4 separate regions of the Homo sapiens genome follow, and all the other regions are reported to be linked to region 1. The links are microRNA targets in miRTarBase. Many come from high-throughput screens and were not tested one by one. Region 1 holds a microRNA gene; each other region holds the end of a gene's coding sequence.
Evidence for each region. The annotated mature microRNA hsa-miR-3622a-3p reads UCACCUGACCUCCCAUGCCUGU and lies in region 1 at 2,413-2,434, shown strand. An mRNA with a match to its seed (bases 2 to 7 or 8) in the 3' UTR can be bound and repressed. Matches are read on the target gene's strand: a 7mer-m8 pairs with bases 2 to 8, a 7mer-A1 pairs with bases 2 to 7 and ends in A, and an 8mer does both.

Region 2: the mRNA of C14orf180 is a reported target of hsa-miR-3622a-3p. Seed matches in the 3' UTR shown: 7mer-m8 at 2,662-2,668, 7mer-A1 at 1,979-1,985 and 7mer-m8 at 1,562-1,568.
Region 3: miRTarBase lists MRPL16 as a target of hsa-miR-3622a-3p. The part of its 3' UTR that is shown has no 7-base or 8-base seed match.
Region 4: miRTarBase lists ZNF490 as a target of hsa-miR-3622a-3p. Seed matches in the 3' UTR shown: 8mer at 3,076-3,083 and 7mer-m8 at 888-894.

Annotation. Positions count from the first base shown.
Region 1 is chr8:27,699,314-27,703,462 of GRCh38, forward strand. MIR3622A (microRNA 3622a) reads left to right here and starts at 2,364; the gene lies at 2,364-2,446. It overlaps MIR3622B (microRNA 3622b), which reads right to left and starts at 2,454; the gene lies at 2,360-2,454. It overlaps LOC124901920 (a long non-coding RNA gene), which reads left to right and starts at 1,657. Exons shown (of 2, transcript XR_007060869.1): 1 at 1,657-4,149. It also overlaps a transcript of SCARA3 not described here. RefSeq lists a silencer at 3,821-3,966.
Region 2 is chr14:104,588,068-104,592,067 of GRCh38, reverse strand. C14orf180 (chromosome 14 open reading frame 180) reads right to left here. Exons shown (of 5, transcript NM_001008404.3): 4 at 3,759-3,794; 5 at 1,553-3,490. The coding sequence ends at 3,285. It overlaps TMEM179 (transmembrane protein 179), which reads left to right. Exons shown (of 4, transcript NM_001286389.2): 4 at 1-1,204. Among named protein-coding and RNA genes, the nearest start is that of C14orf180, 10 kb to the right of the region's middle. RefSeq lists an enhancer at 3,735-4,000.
Region 3 is chr11:59,802,673-59,806,672 of GRCh38, forward strand. It overlaps MRPL16 (mitochondrial ribosomal protein L16), which reads right to left. Exons shown (of 4, transcript NM_017840.4): 4 at 3,468-4,000. The coding sequence ends at 3,675. STX3 (syntaxin 3) reads left to right here. Exons shown (of 11, transcript NM_004177.5): 11 at 1-3,206. Among named protein-coding and RNA genes, the nearest start is that of MRPL16, 6.1 kb to the right of the region's middle. RefSeq lists an enhancer at 137-186.
Region 4 is chr19:12,576,811-12,580,810 of GRCh38, forward strand. It overlaps ZNF490 (zinc finger protein 490), which reads right to left. Exons shown (of 5, transcript NM_020714.3): 5 at 1-4,000. The coding sequence ends at 3,675. Among named protein-coding and RNA genes, the nearest start is that of LINC02926, 27 kb to the left of the region's middle. RefSeq lists an enhancer at 3,114-4,000.

The sequences.
Region 1 (4,149 bases):
TCAAAATCCCAGCAGCCTTATTTTTCTTTCTTTCTTTTTTGTAAATGACAGAGTCTTGCTCTGTCACCCAGGCTGGAGTGCAGTGGCATGATCATAGTCCACTGCAGCCTTGACCTCCTGGGCTCAAGTGACCCTCCCACCTCAGCTTCATGAGTTGTTGGGATTACAGGCGTAAGCCACTGTGCCAGGCCTCGGCAGCCTTGTTTTTAAAGACACTGACAAAACTGATTCTAAAAATGTATATAAAAGTGCAAAGGATCTAGAAAATCCACAGAATTTTGAAGAAGAGTTCAGTTGGAGGGCCTATACTACATAATATCCAGACGTTCTCTAGGTCTGTCATGGAGGCTCACACCTGCAATCCCAGCACTTTGGGAGGCTCAGGCAGGAGGATCACTTGATCCCAAAAGTTCCAGACCAGCCTAGACAATATAGTGAGACCCCAACTCTACAAAAAATAAAAATTTAAAATTTCAGAAAGAAAAAAAAAGACTTACTCTAAAGCAGCAGTAATTAAGACAATGAGATAATGGTGTAAGGACAGACATATAGATCAATTGAACCACATTGAGATCCAGAAATAGATTTACACATATATATCAATTGATTTTCCCCAAAGACACCAATGATTTCAAAGTCTTTTCAACAAATGATTTTTATATGCAAAAAACAAACTTTGATATTACCTCATATAATACACAAAAATTCATCTGATATGGACCACAAACCTAAATGTAAAAACTAAATCTATAAAACTTCTTAAAAAATACATAAGATAATTTTTGTGACTTTAAGAAATATGGTCATGAAAGTCACAAACCATAAGAGAAAAATTTTGATAAATTGGATTATATCAAAATTAAAACCCTCTATTCTTTAAAATATCCCTTTAAGAACATGAAAAGAAAAAAAATCCCAGAATAAGAGAAAATATTTGCAATACATATATGAGACAAAGGACTTGCTTTCAGGATACATAAAGAACTCATACATCTCAATAAGAAAAAGACATGCAGCTCAAATTAAAAATGGATGAAAGTCCCAGCACTTTGGGAGGCCGAGATGGGCAAATCACTGGAGGCCAGGAGTTCAAGAACAGCCTGGCCAACATGGTGAAACCCTGTCTCTACTAAAAATACAAAAATTAGCTGGGCATGGTGGTGGGCTCCTGTAGTCCCAGCTACTTGGAAGGGTGAGGCAGGAAAATCACTTGAACCCAGGAGGTGGAAGTTGCAGTGAGCTGAGATCACACCACTGCACTCCAGCCTAAGCAACAGAGCAAAACTCTACCTCAAAAATAAAAAAAAAAAAAAAGATGAAAGACATGAACAGACATTTTGCAAGAAAAGTATATGAATGACCATGTAAGCACATGAAAAAGTGTTCCAGCTTCATTAATCATCAGGGAAATGCAAATGAAACCACTCTGAGATACCACTAGAATGGCTAAAATTTCAAAAACCAACAATACAAAATGTTGTGAGGATGTGGAGCAACGAGAACTCTCATGCATTAATGGTGAAACTGTGAAGTGGTACAACCCTTTTGGAAAAGTTAGGTGATTTCCTATAAATCTGAACACATACTTAACCTATGATCCAGCAATTTCACTTCTGGGTTTTTACCCAAGAGAAATGAAAATGTTTTTCTATACCAAAATTTGTACATACTATTCACAACAGCATTGTCCAGAATAGCAAAAAACTGGAAACAAGTCAAATGTTCATCAATAGGCAAATGCATGGAAAAATTATGATAAATCCATACTCACCAGTAAAAAAAAAACAAAAAAACTAGTGATATGCAAACCAACTTGGATAAATCTCAAAAGCACATTGAGTAGAGGAAGTCACTCAAAAGAGTACAGACTGTATTATTCCATTGAGATGATGTTCTAGAAAAACTAAAATGAATCTATAGTTACAGAAATCAGGTAAGTGGTTACCTGGGATGGGATGGTTAGGATGGGATTAACTACAAAAGAGAAATAGGGAAGTTTCTGGGGTGCTATAAATATTTTGATTGATTTAACAGTTACTGAGTGTATATATTTGTTAAAATTCATCAAAGTCTACATTGAAGTGTATGCATTGTATTATATGTAAATTATGCCTCAGTACAGTAGATTTTTTTAAAATGTTCTCGTAGCTCCCCATTGAACACAGGTGTCATCATGGCAAGACATTTCCTAGCTGAGAGATGCTTTTTCATTCTTTCATTCAAAAAGTAGCTTTTTCTTTCCTTCCTTCCTTCCTCTCTTTCTTTCTCTTTCTCTCTTTCTTTCTTTTCTTTCTTTCTCTTTTTTTTAGTGGCAAGGTCTTGTTTTGTCACCCAGGCTGGAGTGCAGTGGTGTGATCATAGCCAATAGAGGGTGCACAGGCACGGGAGCTCAGGTGAGGCAGGGAGCTGAGCTCACCTGACCTCCCATGCCTGTGCACCCTCTATTATATCACTCGTATGTCTACCATTGTTTGCAGATCGTGAGCTGCTTGATGACTGATGCTAGGGTGACCAACCAACCAAGTATGCCCCAAACCAAAGGGTTTCCTGGGCTTCCTGAGCTAAGGGATGTTCAGTGCTAAAACTGGGAGGCCCAGGCAAACGGGGAAAATGGGTCACCTTATCTGAGACCTTGTGCTACTCATCTCTGAAAGCATTCCCAGGCTTAGCCCCCTATCAGGTGGGTGATGTATGCTCAGTAAATGTTTCCTGAAAGGCTAGAATATGTGTGAGTAGGACACTTGAAATTCTCCTTTGGTTTCCCATGCAAACTGAGTCCTACAGTGAGAAAGCCAAGCGTAGTGGCAGATCCTGCCCCAGACACCAGGCTCGCTTGGGTCCTGCCTAGGGCGCCAGCCTCTCTCCCATGTCATTGGTGTTCTGGAAAGCAGATAAACAACTGACTTCAAGTCCTATTTAAGTTTTATGGGGTAGCCAAGGTCTTCCAGGGCTCCATCTCCAGGAAGCCCCCTCCCTGCAGCCTGGCTGGCTTTTCTTCTTCTTCTGGTGAAGTCATCCGACCCCAAGTGGCCCACAGTTTCCTTTCTCTCCACACCTCCCAAACCCGCTGCCCAGTCCTGGCACTGCCTGGGGTTACTGCTGACCTTTCAGTGCTGTTTGCTCAGAAAGTGCCTTTATGTCAACACAAACAGCCTTCAGGTTTGCCAGGGCCTGGCTCCTTTTCTCCCTGGGGTCCAGGGTAGAAAAACAATAACCAGTGGGAAGGAGAGCGAGCCATAGGGGAGTGACGCGTCCCTGGACCTTGGGTCTCTGTCCTCTCAGCCCTGTCCCTCAGGGCCTCCTTTGTCAGAACTCAGTTCTGTGGGGAGAGGGTACTGGGGAGGCAGCGGCTTTAAACAATGCCACAGTGTCTGGCAGGGAGCTGCGTGCTTGACCTGATTAGGCTCAGTGAGCCCGGGGGAGGGAGGGAGTGAAGGCAGGCTTGGGAAAGTGTTTTCCATCCCCACCCAACAGACTTTGCTTCCTTGTATCTCTGCCAAGACCTCTTTTTGGGGAGGAAAGGCCGAATCGCCTCATTTCTACAGGGGCACCTTGGCCTCGCTCCTCTAAACCTGGGTAAGCTCTTTGACCTGCCTGTCCCCCTCCCTCTTGTCTTTCCTTCCCACCAACCAGCTCCCAAACAGAAAGTGTTTTTCACACTCGCAGCTCTCCCTCCTCAGGCCCTGCCAGGCCCGAAGCTGGGCCCAGAGGCCAGCTGGCACCCACATGAAAGGCCTTCCTGTCGAGAACTGGCATGGAACCCAGGGCCTCAAGGCTGCCCACACCACAGCCCTGGCCCAGGGTCCAGAGCACAGGGCCACGGAAACTTGGCCACAAGGCTCTGGGGAGAAAAACAGCCTGAGCCGCACAGGAGAGGAGCCTCCCATCCCCGCAGCCTGGCTGGGCACATCAAGGGAGAAAGCGCAGTGCCCAGAATCCTTTGAACATGAAGCCGCAGCACCTGCACCTGGCAGAGGACCCGGGAACCAGGGATTCGTGCTGGGGGCAGCACTTGGGGTTTGTTAGTGCAGGTGGAGAGAAAACAGGAGAGTAGCAATTTCCAACCCATCAGCAGAAAAAAGTGAAAGCTGAGAAGTCAGGGTGAGGCTGGAGGGGACAGGATGGGGTGGCTGGGTGGGCCCAGAATTG
Region 2 (4,000 bases), not on the chromosome of region 1:
GAGGAGGGAGCTGCCTTCCCATTCTGCAGAGTCTGTGTGCTGAGGCCCCGCAGAAGCAAGTGGAGGAGCTGGGATGTGAACCTGGGACCCCGGCGTAGGGGGCTGCTTGGCTGTGGACCCTGCCCCTCAGGAAAGCCCAGGGTCCACCTCCAGAGGACTCGTTCTGGGGCGGGGGCGGAGGCGGGGGGCCTCCCCACCCGGGGCTCGATGAGGGGCTGTCCGTTTCTTGGCTCGAGTGCTGCCAAGTGCTCCCTGCTGCTGCGCCCACCTTCCCGGGGAGAGGCGAGCCCCTGGCTCCCTGAGTTCATGACCCACCCTGTCCACCATCAGCAGCTGGCTTGTGTCTCTGGGTGGCTGGGCACCAGCCTCCTGGAGGCCACGTGCCTGGGTCCACATGGAGGGTCCTGGTGGGGGCATCATCCTGGGTCCCGGGAGTGAGGCTGGCAGGTGCCCATCGGGGGTGTCAAGTCCAGGGGGATCGAGGCTCTGGAAGCTCAAGGGGGCTCTGGCCTTGGGGACCAGCTGAGTTTCCAGCTGGCAGCCAGGTCCTCGAGGGAAGGGGTTTGGACAGAATCCGAGGCCCCCTAAGCTGATGGGGTCCCCTGTCTCCCCTTCCAGCCCTGACCCACTGGACATGGGGACTCTTTCCAGTCCGGAGAGCTCCTTGTCTGTGTCCCCAGCAGAAGGTGGGGTGGCTCCTGCCTCACCCTCTGCCCAGCCCTGATCCAGGCCACAGCCATCTAGGGCCCTGAAGGAGGGGCAGGAGGCAGGGGTGGCTTCTGGAACCTGAGGCTTGGCCCCGGTTGGGTCTGTTCTTGGGGGCTGCACTGCTGGATCCCAGGAGCAGGTGTGGAACAGCCCCATGGCCAGGGTGATGGAAATCCTCGGCTGCATGCAGACATAGACCCACCCTGGACTGGGCTGTCTCCGGAGCCCAGACACATCGCCCTGGGAAGGGGCAGCTGGGCCTGCAGTGTGCTGGGCAGGGGCTGGCGGCCCTGGTCGTGGGCTCTCCAGGGTCCCTCAGGGGATTGGGCCTCTCCCCAGGCAGGAAGGTGGGAAGTGCAGGCATGACCCGGGGTTCCTGAGGCTGGTCCACCAAGTTGCTTCTGAGACGCCTTCGCTTCTGTCCTGGCTGGCTGTTAATGATATCCCTGTTCTAATTCCACTCTGGCTAAACTGAAAGTAAAGATCCTTAAGCTTACATGTGTCTATTCCTCAAAATCAAAATAAAAACAAAAGCACCCGAGTCTCCAACAGGGATGAGGAGGAGCGTGTGGGGCTTCTGTCTGCCCTCTCCGCTGTTGGCTGGCCTGGCTCGTGGTTCTAACTGTCTGTAATTTGTGGGTCACACACAGTTTGCTCAGGCTTTGAGCCTTTCGTGTCCGAAGCTTTTAGGAATTAGAAGTTGGCCTTCCCGAGGTTCTGCCTTCCTCTCTGTACATTTTCTAGTGGCTTCGAGTCTCACTGCTTCCCATGCAGCTTCCCCAGGTGGGAGGATCCATTTCGAAGGATCTCTTGGGGGTGTGGTGCCCATCTTTGAGCAATGTTTATTCGAAAACACCTGAGGTCGTAGCGTGGGACCCCGCAAAGCCAGGCACGTCCTTGCGTTGCCTTTGCAGTGGACAGACAGCAGCGGCTGGGGGAGATCGGCCTGTGCGGTGTCCCCCGTCAGAACCGGGGCTGGAGGGGTGTCCCAAGCACACAGGGCTGAGCCTGGGCCTGTGACTGCTCTGAGAGACCCAACCTCTGGGAGCCGCTGCTTCTGCATCCAGAATATGGGGCAGGAACCTGCCCATCCTCCTTCCTGGGGTGGGGTGGGATGGGCTGGGCCTGGGGAGAGATGCTGGAGGGTCCCCGGGGGAGCCCCCACCATGGTCCCTTCTGGGCCACTTCTGGAAACAGCCCCTTTTGTTACCTCCACCCGCAACTCTGGGCTCCCTGGATTCCAAAGCTGGAAGTGACCCTGGAGACCACTTCACCTGTTCCCTGGCACCTGGAGTTGCAGGGACACACCCTGACTGCAGGGCAAAGGGAGCCGGCCGGGCATCCCTCAAGACCCAGGGGCTTGGTCAGCCCCTGCCCGAGTGGACACATCCACTCCCAGGCCTGCAGGAGATGGGGAGGTTCCAGGCGCCCAGGACATCCGCTTTGGCCACTGAGGCCGATTCCTTAGCAAATCGGTTCTGGTTTCTCTCATTTCTATAAAAACACCAAGACTGAAGGAAGCCACGGTGTGTTTTAATAAAACAGTGTCTCCCAGTTAAGTGGTGGGACAAACAGGAACCACCGGGTGGATGGTCGGCCGTGCCCACCCGCCTCAGGCTAACCTCGAGGACGCTGGTCTGATTGTCCCTGTGTCTCTCCTGGGCAGTTCTGCCTGGTGTCTAACCGTGGGCCTCCCTGCTTTGTTCAGCCCTCCCCCCACGTAGGGTCTGGAGAGGCCCCTGGTGTTTGTCATCCACAGGGCTCCCTTCAGCTCTGCAATCCGGCGACAAAGCCACAACCACAGACGGTCTCCGGGACCCACAGGCCCCAGCTGGTGGGTGGTGCTGGCTGGCCCCGGGCTCAGCTGGGTGTGCCTGGCCTGCAGAGCTGGGCACAGATGGCTGTTCTGAAGGTCGGGGGTGTCTGGGCCCCTTGCTGTCCCCTCGGCTTCTACACCTGAAGCCGCCCCTGATGAGGGGTCCTTCCCTGGGGCCTCTCCAGACTCACGGGGCTGGGTAGGGGGGTCAGACCTGGGCTCAGAGGATGGCACCTCACATCAAAGGGACCCACCTTGACAACCAGACCCTTCCCTCCCCGTGGGGTTTCGAGGTCTGGATTCCCCACAAGCCATAATCGCAAAAGGCTGGGTTTGCCTCCTCCGAGCAGCCCCTTGAACACGGGCAGTGTGTCCCCCTCCTCAAGAGGGTGCACACGGTGATGGCCGGGCCAGGCCCTAGCAGCAGCAGGAGTTCCTGCTGGGACGAGGGAGGGGTCTTTGGGTGAGCCTGGGGAGCCTCAACTGTTAGCAGTCGAATCCTCTTTCTAATAAAATCTCACATGGACCCAACACAGGAGACAGGAGGGCTGTGCTGACTAGTGTGGCGGGGCCGCCTGCTGTGCCCCCCATGTCCGATCTCACGCCACGGGGTCCCCCTTTTCCTAGTTAGCCCTCAGGCAGCAGCCCCTTTTGGCCCCCATGATTCACCAAGCAGCAGGGCCAGGGCTCAGGCTGTCTCGGAGCCCCCGGAGTGCTTGAGCTCTCCTGGAAGCCCTGCCCGTCCTGCCCGTCCTGCCCGTCAGAGCCGCAGGAGGCCGCGCCAGCAGGTGAGGGCCACGTGCCGCAGGTGCAGGACAAGGCCGAGGAGCCGGGCCCGCAGGTCCTCCAGTGCCGTTGCCACGGGCTTGGCCCGGCCGCAGTATAGGCCCAGGGCCAGCACGAGCAGGACGCACACACACAGCTGCAGGAGCAGGGAGCCGCCGTGTGGCCTGGGCCGGCCGGGCACTGCGGCCAGAGGGCAGGCAGGGTCAGCGCCAGCCAGCGCGACCCTTCCCTGGAGGACTGGGGCTGGTGGGGAAGGGATGGGGAGATTCCACCCTGTCCATGCCCATGGCCCCTCCCTAGCCTCTTGGGGTCTCCTTGCAACAAGAGCTCCCCAACTGGGGACTCCTTAGAGGCCCTGGCCCTGTGACACCTCCCTCGGGGAGGGAGTGAGGGTGGGTGCACCCACGGAGGGGGCAGTGGGGCACAGGGATGTGGGCTCAGAACTCACCCCTGACAGTGGCTGTGGCGTTCTTGTCAGCAATGTCTGCGAAAGAGAATGGAGAGTCAGCTGGGGGCACCTGCCTCAGTCCATCGGGCGCCCCCGCCCTCTCGTCTCACCCTGCACCCCCGAAGGACCCTGAGACTATTCATCAGTGAGAGACCCAGGCCCAGCCGGTCCTGACACTTCCTCAAAGGGACAGTCATGATTTGAGAATCCGCCCTCATGTTCTCCTCCAGTTGCTGTTTCAT
Region 3 (4,000 bases), not on the chromosome of region 1:
TAAAAATAAAAATGACTTTGTATTGATTGTGAAACGGTTCTGGCTCTGTCTCGATGCAGAAACACAATGATCTGGTGCCACCATGTGGTGATTTTTATTCAGGTTTTAGAATGCAGTTCACACCTTTTTAAGCCATGTGCTGGATCAGATGGTTCAAAAGTGCAATTTTTGAACATGGTTTAACTCCCACAGAATGCAGTGTAACTATGTTTGTGTTTCAGATTTGAGGTGTTCCCCCCAAAAGAATTTGGTTCAGTCCTTGGGAGTATCTGGCTTTAGGAGGAAATGGGGGAGATCTGTCACGATGTTATCTAGAAGGTGGAATGACCATACCAAACATCCTTTTAATCTAACTTGAATGTCTCACCAAAAATAACATTTCTGTTGGCATTCTGGGTCCTAGAAGCCAGATCCATCTCCTTTTTCCTTCTGTTGCTCTCTTCCTTCACACCCTCTTCCATGTCCACATGCACTTATCTCCCTGCAGAATACTTTTTGCGATGATGTTTCTCATGTATTCTTTCTTTCCTTGTCTGGATGAGCAGAAGAAGATCATGATCATGATCTGCTGTATTATCCTTGCGATCATCTTAGCTTCCACCATTGGGAGCATATTTGCCTGAAAAAGGTGAGCCATCTGTGGGGAGGGTCAGACCTTCTTTCACTGACTTGAAACCTTTGTGTCTTGGGGGCACTCTAGGTGCCTTAATCTGGGTGGGATTAGGTGCTAATAATGGTTAGAGAAAACTAAAGAAAGGGATGTTTCAGAGACAGAAAAGTGAGTGAAGAATGAACTGTTAGTAGGTAGTCTGTGGGAGGAGGGGGGAGACAGAAGGTGGCAATCTGTCCTATAACCTGGTGTGGCAGAATGCTTTGTACAGGTGAAGGATAGTGATTCCTGCTAAACAGTTTGAGCCTTGGTATCTGGAAGTGACAAAAAGAACAAGAATTAGTTCTTGCATTAGGTGCATCTTGAACTTTTTGGAAGAGGGCCGGCCACACAGTAAATTCAAATTAAATTTCTTCCCTTTCAAGGTTAATGAAAGTTAACACAGCCTTGTATGTAGTCCTTTACCCCGGGTAAGAGGGATTTGGTGATCCCAGCCACGAACACCATGCTATATAATCTATGATTTTTTTCCTCCATTTTTCTGTTATCTCCCACAGCCCTCACAGATTGATCGACTGGCATTTCTAATCCTCCTTCCACTTCTGTGGTACCATCACTTCTCCACGCAGACTCCTCATCAGCTTCTCCTCTTTCCATTATGAAACTTCTTAAGAAACAGGGCACCAATCAACTACTTATTAAGAATTATGCAAAGAATAAACGTATACAGAATTGGGCGGAGGACAGGGACAGGGAGTACAGATACATAGCTGATTAGGCAGATGGTTTAAAGGAGGACTGCAGGGTAGAGAAGCAAGCAGAGTGGGCGCCTCTTTAGGAAGTGACACAGCCTGCATGTGCAGTATGGCTGTGAAGGGGCAGATATCATAGCACACCTAACTCAACAGGATCTTACTTGAACTGCTGTGAGTTGGTCAAGTCAGGGCACTTCTGCTCTTCAGGCTCCTCTAGGTCACACCTTTGACCACCCTACATCTGTTTCCTCTTTCAGGCTCCAGTAGTAGTCTTAAAAGTGAAGTTTATCTAAGGATAAGCACATGCCTATCTTGCTCACTGCTGTGTCCCCACTTTTTAGCACAGCGCCTGCTGCTTACAGGTACTCAAATATCTGCTGACTTAATTACTTATAATTAAGCTCTTATTTCAGTCATGGACAAATCCTTGGGTTTGACTCCTAAACTCTTTAAGGTACCAATGAGAACGTGGTTTGTTACTGTCAGAGGCTGTGTAAAGCCGCTTGGGAATGGGCTGATCTGCTTATGCAAAAATGCTACCAACCTTTCAAACCCCATTACCACAACATGAAAATTTAAAGTGCTTTTTCTATGGGTGGTGATGGTGGAGTTCTAGCAACAGCCTCTTAATCTGTGGAGAAGATGGCTGGCTCCAGGACTGTGGTTCAATAACGAAATACAGGCCCACAAAATAAAATAGGTTTATAGCATGACTGAACTCACACATCAGTAGAACACTCTGTGAACCATAACAAAGAACAGATAAAGGTGTCAAGTGAGAAAGGTGAAATGAGGTTATCACTCACTTCACCTCTCACCTGATTTGTGTTGCTAGCTGAAACTGCTGGCCAGTAACGTATGTATAAGAAACTGTTATAGGCCGGGCACGGTGGCTCATGCCTGTAATCACAGCACTTTGGGAGGCCAAGGCAGGTGGATCACCAGACTGACCAACATAGTGAAACCCCCTCTCTACAAAAAATACAAAAATTAGCCAGGCATGGTGGCTTGCACCTGTATTCCCAGCTACTTGGGAGGCTGAGGCAGGAGAATTGCTTGAATGCAAGAGGCGGAAGTTGCAGTGAGCCGAGATCGCGCCACTGCACTCCAGCCTGGGCAACAAGAGCTAAATTCCATCTAAAAAAAAAAAAAAAACAAAAAAAAAAAACTGTTCTTAATACTTAATACTGTCCCCAATTCCATTCAAGGTTCAGTTGTGTTCAGCTTTAAAACCAGCTATGTGAATGTGAGTTCTAGTGCAGATTATTTAGTGATTATGTAACTAAAATTGATGAAAAAATCACACTATACAACTGTGAGGAGCACACAACTGCTAAGTTTGTACTTTTGAAAGTAAATTATTCTTTGTTTGATACCTTATTTTTTAAGAAAGTGGGATTAAAAATATTTTGGTCAGTGCTGTTTTCTACCCACCTTCAAAAGCCAATGGTTTGATATTTCTATTAATTTGTGCTTCCTTTAGTTTTAATAGGGGATAGAAGACTGCAGCTGGTTGGGTCTGGAAAACATTAATCTGGGCAAACGGAGCTGGAGCTATGAGGATCTGAGTCCTAGGGGGCCCTCATTCACTAGCAGTAAGAATTTAAGTGGTGCATGGCACATAGCACTGTACTAGATTCTGCAGGGGCACAAACATAGAGCCAAACACTCTCCCTCTTGGAGAATTTCAGACCCAGAAAAGGCCACGCAGTTCTAACTTTTGTCATCGGTTCCTTTTGCTAAAAGGCAAAGGGTATGTTCCTTGCCTATTGTCCAACATACCCCTTCCAAGATTGTGAGAAGATGGGTAGCTGGGCATCAATAAATATTGAATCAATTGACCTATGTACTGTTGTTTTTTTCTTACTCTAAAAATGTGTTTTTAACCTAGTAAAATATCACAGAAACTGGCTCCTGAAGTGTGTACGTATAAAAGGCAGTATAAACATTTAAGTGAGACTCGCATCATAGATGGGGGAATGCAAACATTTGTTTCAGCCTTCATGTTCATCTTACACCCCAGGAGGACCAAGAACTCTTTAGTCATTGAGGCCTATTTCTTAATCTTTTAAGGGATTAAGAATGACCAATGAGAAGTTATATCCTGAAGTGATGTTTAAATTTTATTTAATAAAAATACAGTTTTCTTTTTAAATCAACAAATAACATTGTTTTTCAGAAATCTACTCAAATGCTGCTCCTTAGTTATGGCTTAAGAGCTACCCAAAGACTTCAGTGGGTAGGCTGAGGGGAATAGAAATGCAGAATCCTTCTTTCAGTAGCCTATATACAGTTATCTCCTACACTCACTACACACGTTTGGGCATGTAGAACTTGCCCCAGTATTTCCCCTTGTGGGTCAAGTCATATGGGCTCAGTACTTTCCGTATGCCCAGCATGTTGGCAGTGGCTATTCGCTCAAATGTCCAGGGGTTCTGGTTGTTACGTTCTCTTTCCTCTTGATCTTTTCGCATCTTCTCTAGAGTCCCGCGGCTCACAGCCTTTGCTGCGAAGGGCAACTTGTGGGCAACCTGGTCAAGGAAACCTTGCACTTCTTCAAATTCACAACGCCCACCCATCTCTACAACAAGGCGGCCAGCCTTCACAGGTGTCACGTAGTGGTCAATAGCACCTT
Region 4 (4,000 bases), not on the chromosome of region 1:
CTCAAAAAAAAAAAAAAAAAAAAAAACCTAAAAGCATTCCATATTTAAAAATATATATAAATATATATACACACAGCCCTCTAGACAAATATACAAAAATCACACACGTTATCACTGTACATACAGGTGGACAGACACAAATTCACAAACCCACAGGTGTAACAGCCCAGATACTAAAAGATTCTCCCAAATAGAAGGACCCCAGGTGTTCTGATCTCTTCTCCAGGTTTCTCTGGCTCCTCGGGAATAACCACCACAGTGCCTTATATATCCTTGCTTGCTTTCGTGTCTTCCAGAATGCCAGGATCAAGGGGACAGAGATATTAGCACAGCTTTGTTGACTACACCTATTAGAGGGAGTTACACAGAGGAAAATACTTACTGAATATTAGGACTCACACAGACACATACACAAAAGGGTTTTACAAAAACATCATCATAGACCCACATATACTTGTCCTTCAAAAAGTGAATGTTCTCACTCCCATTCCTGTAGCAGAGATACCCCTTAGTTCCCCAATACCTATCACAAAAGATGGCTCCTTGAGCCCATTCTGACAGTGAAGGAATCTCGAACTTCCTGACCTCCCACAGTACAATAATCATCTCTCTACAAAAGCACAACATGGCAGCTCAAGAATGTGAAAGGACCTGAAATGGGTTGAGTAATAATGTTCCAACCCCTCATACTACCATAAATGTTCCTGGTGAGAGAAGCGAATGTTCCTGGTGAGAGAAGCGAAGGTGTGCATCTCCTGGCTCAGCCACCAGGTCCTCCACTGCATCTCCACAGTAGCCGTCACTTCCACTGAGGCCTCATCTGCCAGCAAACCTTGCTCCAGTCGGCCTCTGGACCCTAGTATCTTCACCGTGGTTTTGGATGCTGCCACCTGACCCATCCCTGCTGTTGGGGGAGGGTGGAGGCCAGAGGCCTAAAGAGTTCCGACCCGAGCGACACAAAGATCACTTCTGGGACCCACCCAGGGAGACTGTTGTTACGAGGGTGGATGGTGACCTGGTTTCCCTCAATGCTGCCACCTCCCTTCTAAAACACACTGACTTGCTAAGAAAAGGGGGGACTGACTCCAACAAAGGACAGACCCGACCCCTATCGTGCCTATGCAATTCAGAAAACGGAGAATTCGGAGGCTCCAGCAAGCAGTTTATTGGGAGTTGAGTTCACCTTGCCTTGTGATGTGAAGCAAGGTAGTTCCATGGCTTGTGAACCCTGACACCAGCACCTCCCATACACAACAGAGCTGGAGCGCTGCAGGGTGGGTCCTTTTCCAAGAAGAGCTAAGTGCTAGTCTTAGCGGGAGGCTAGGAAACCAGTCCTGGAGCAGGATGCATGTGACATGCACTGACGTGAGAAGGCCGGAGCATCATCAGTGCATATGCCGCTGAATATCTCAGGGTAGAATGTGCCAGAAAACAGGGAAAGCAAGTTAGGGGAGGTAAGAATTCTGAGTGTCCTACAGCTAAGACATGGCAGAGTGTGTCTGTGACTCCACTAGCAGTTTTGAGATTATTCTGACTGTGGTGGTTGGTGCAGGGCTGGTAACCGCAGGAGAGTGGATGCTGTGTGGTCAAGGGGTGTGTGTCCCATGATACAGGCTCTGCTTCTTCAGTCTCTCACCTCAGAGCCACCTGCGGTTGCCACAGAGAAATTCAGATGTGAATGTTTAAACAAGTGTCCAAAGTGTAGGTTTGAGATGGGAAATGGAGCTGGAGATGACCTCAAAACAGCCCTGGAATAATGCAATGCTGACAATGTCTGTGAATTAGGATGTGCATAGGCAGATCCCACTTGGGGAAAAACTGTAAGATGCGAACCTTTGTCTTAGAAGTACAGCATTCCCACAGTCTGACCCGAGGACACTGATGGAAACTTAAAAGGCAGATTCTGGGAGTCTTCTCACTTCTCTCCAGTCATGTGTGAGAGCTGAGGGCAGGCACTGCCCTAGAGGGTGTTTCCTAACTTCTGACTGGATGCCACAAAAGGCCTGCTGGGGCCCAAGTCCTTCTTCCCCATTCCTTTAATTCTTCCTACGAAGAATCTCGACAATGGTTGCAGATGTCATTGAAGATGTTCCCATATTGCTTACATTTAAGAAGGTGGCTCTCCAGTGTGGGTGGTTTCATGGTTTTAAAATGAACTGGAGGCCGGGCGCGGTGGCTCACGCCTATAATCCCAGCACTTTGGGAGGCCGAGGAGGGCGGATCACGAGGTCAGGAGATCAAGACTATCCTGGCTAACACGGTGAAACCCCGTCTCCACTAAAAATACAAAAAATGAGCCGGGCGTGGTGGCGGGCGCCTGTAGTCCCAGCTACTCGGGAGGCTGAGGCAGGAGAATGGCGTGAACCCAGGAGGCGGAGCTTGCAGTGAGCTGAGATCGCGCCACTGCACTCCAGCCTGGGCAAGGACTCCGTCTCAAAAAAAAAAAAAAAGAACTGGGGGCCGGGTGTGGTGGCTCACGCCTGTAATCCCAGCACTTTGGGAGGCCAAGGCAGGTGGATTACCTGAGGTCAGGAGTTCAAGACCAGCCTGGCCAACATGGTGAAACCCCGTCTCTACTAAAAATATAAAAATTAGTTGGGCGTGGTGGCATGTGCCTGTAATGCCAGCTACTAGGGGGCCTGAGGCAGGATTGCTTTGACCTGGGAGGCAGAGGTTGCGCCACTTTCACTCCAGCCTAGGCAACAGAGTAAGACTCCAGCTCAAAAAAAAAAAAAAAAAAAAGTAAAACGAACAATTTGGGAGGCCAAGGTGGGTGGATCATTTGAGGTCAAGAGTTTAAGATCAGCCTGGTCAACATGGTGAAACACTGTCTCTACTAAAAATATAAAAATTAGCTGGGCATGGTGGTGGGCACTTGTAATCCCAGCTACTTGGAAGGCTGAGGCAGAAGAATTGCTTGAACCCAGAGGTTACAGTGAGCCAGGATCACACCACTGCACTCCAGCCTGGGGCAACAGAGTGAGACACCATCTTGGGGTGCGGCGGGGAAAAAAAGGTTGGGTGCTGTGGCTCACACCTGTAATCCCAGCACTTTGGGAGGCCGAGGCAGGCAGATCACCTGAGGTCAGGAGTTTGAGACCAGCCTGACCAACATGGAGAAACCCCATCTCTACTAAAATTACAAAATTAGCCAGGCGTGGTGGCGCATGCCTGTAATCCCAGCTTCTTGGGAGGCTGCGGCAGGAGAATTGCTTGAATCCGGGAGGCGGAGGTTGCGGTGAGCCGCGATCGCACCACTGCACTCCAGCCTGGGCAACAAGAGCAAAATTACATCTCAACAAAAACAAAAACAAAAAACAAACCCCACAAAAGATGGGATGGATATAGAATTTTCTTTATAGTTTCTCTCCAGTATATATTCTCAGGTGTCTTTAAAAGATTACGTGAAGTGAAGGCTTTCCTACACTCCATACATTCGTAGCTTTTCTGTCCATGGAGTCCATTCACATATCTGCAATCCCGCAGGAGAGTGCAAGTTCCTCCCCCATTTGTTAAATATTTCATTGCCGCATGAGTCACGTCTTCAAAGGGAATTAGGACAACTGAAGGCTTAATCACACCGTTTACATTCCTTGAATTTCTCTCCAGCGTAAGTACTCTCATACATCCAAAAGGAACTAATACAACTGACAGCATTACCACACTTTACTTTCTTAGGGCTTCTGTCTACTATGAGTCCTTTCGTGCACGTGCAAAGACTTTGAGTAACTGAAGGCTTTACCACATTGTCTACACTGAAAGGGTCTTTCTCCAGTATGAATTCTTTTGTGTACTTTCAGGGAATTTAAACAAGTGAAAGCTTTGCCACACTGCTTACACTCACATGGTTTCACTCCAGTGTGACTTCTTTCGTGCCTTCGAAGGTGACTGAAGTAAATGAAGACCCGACCACACTGTTTGCATTCATAGGGTTTCTCTCTAGTATGGGTTCTTTCATGGATTCGAAAGTGAGTGGAATAAAGAAAGGCTTTACCACATT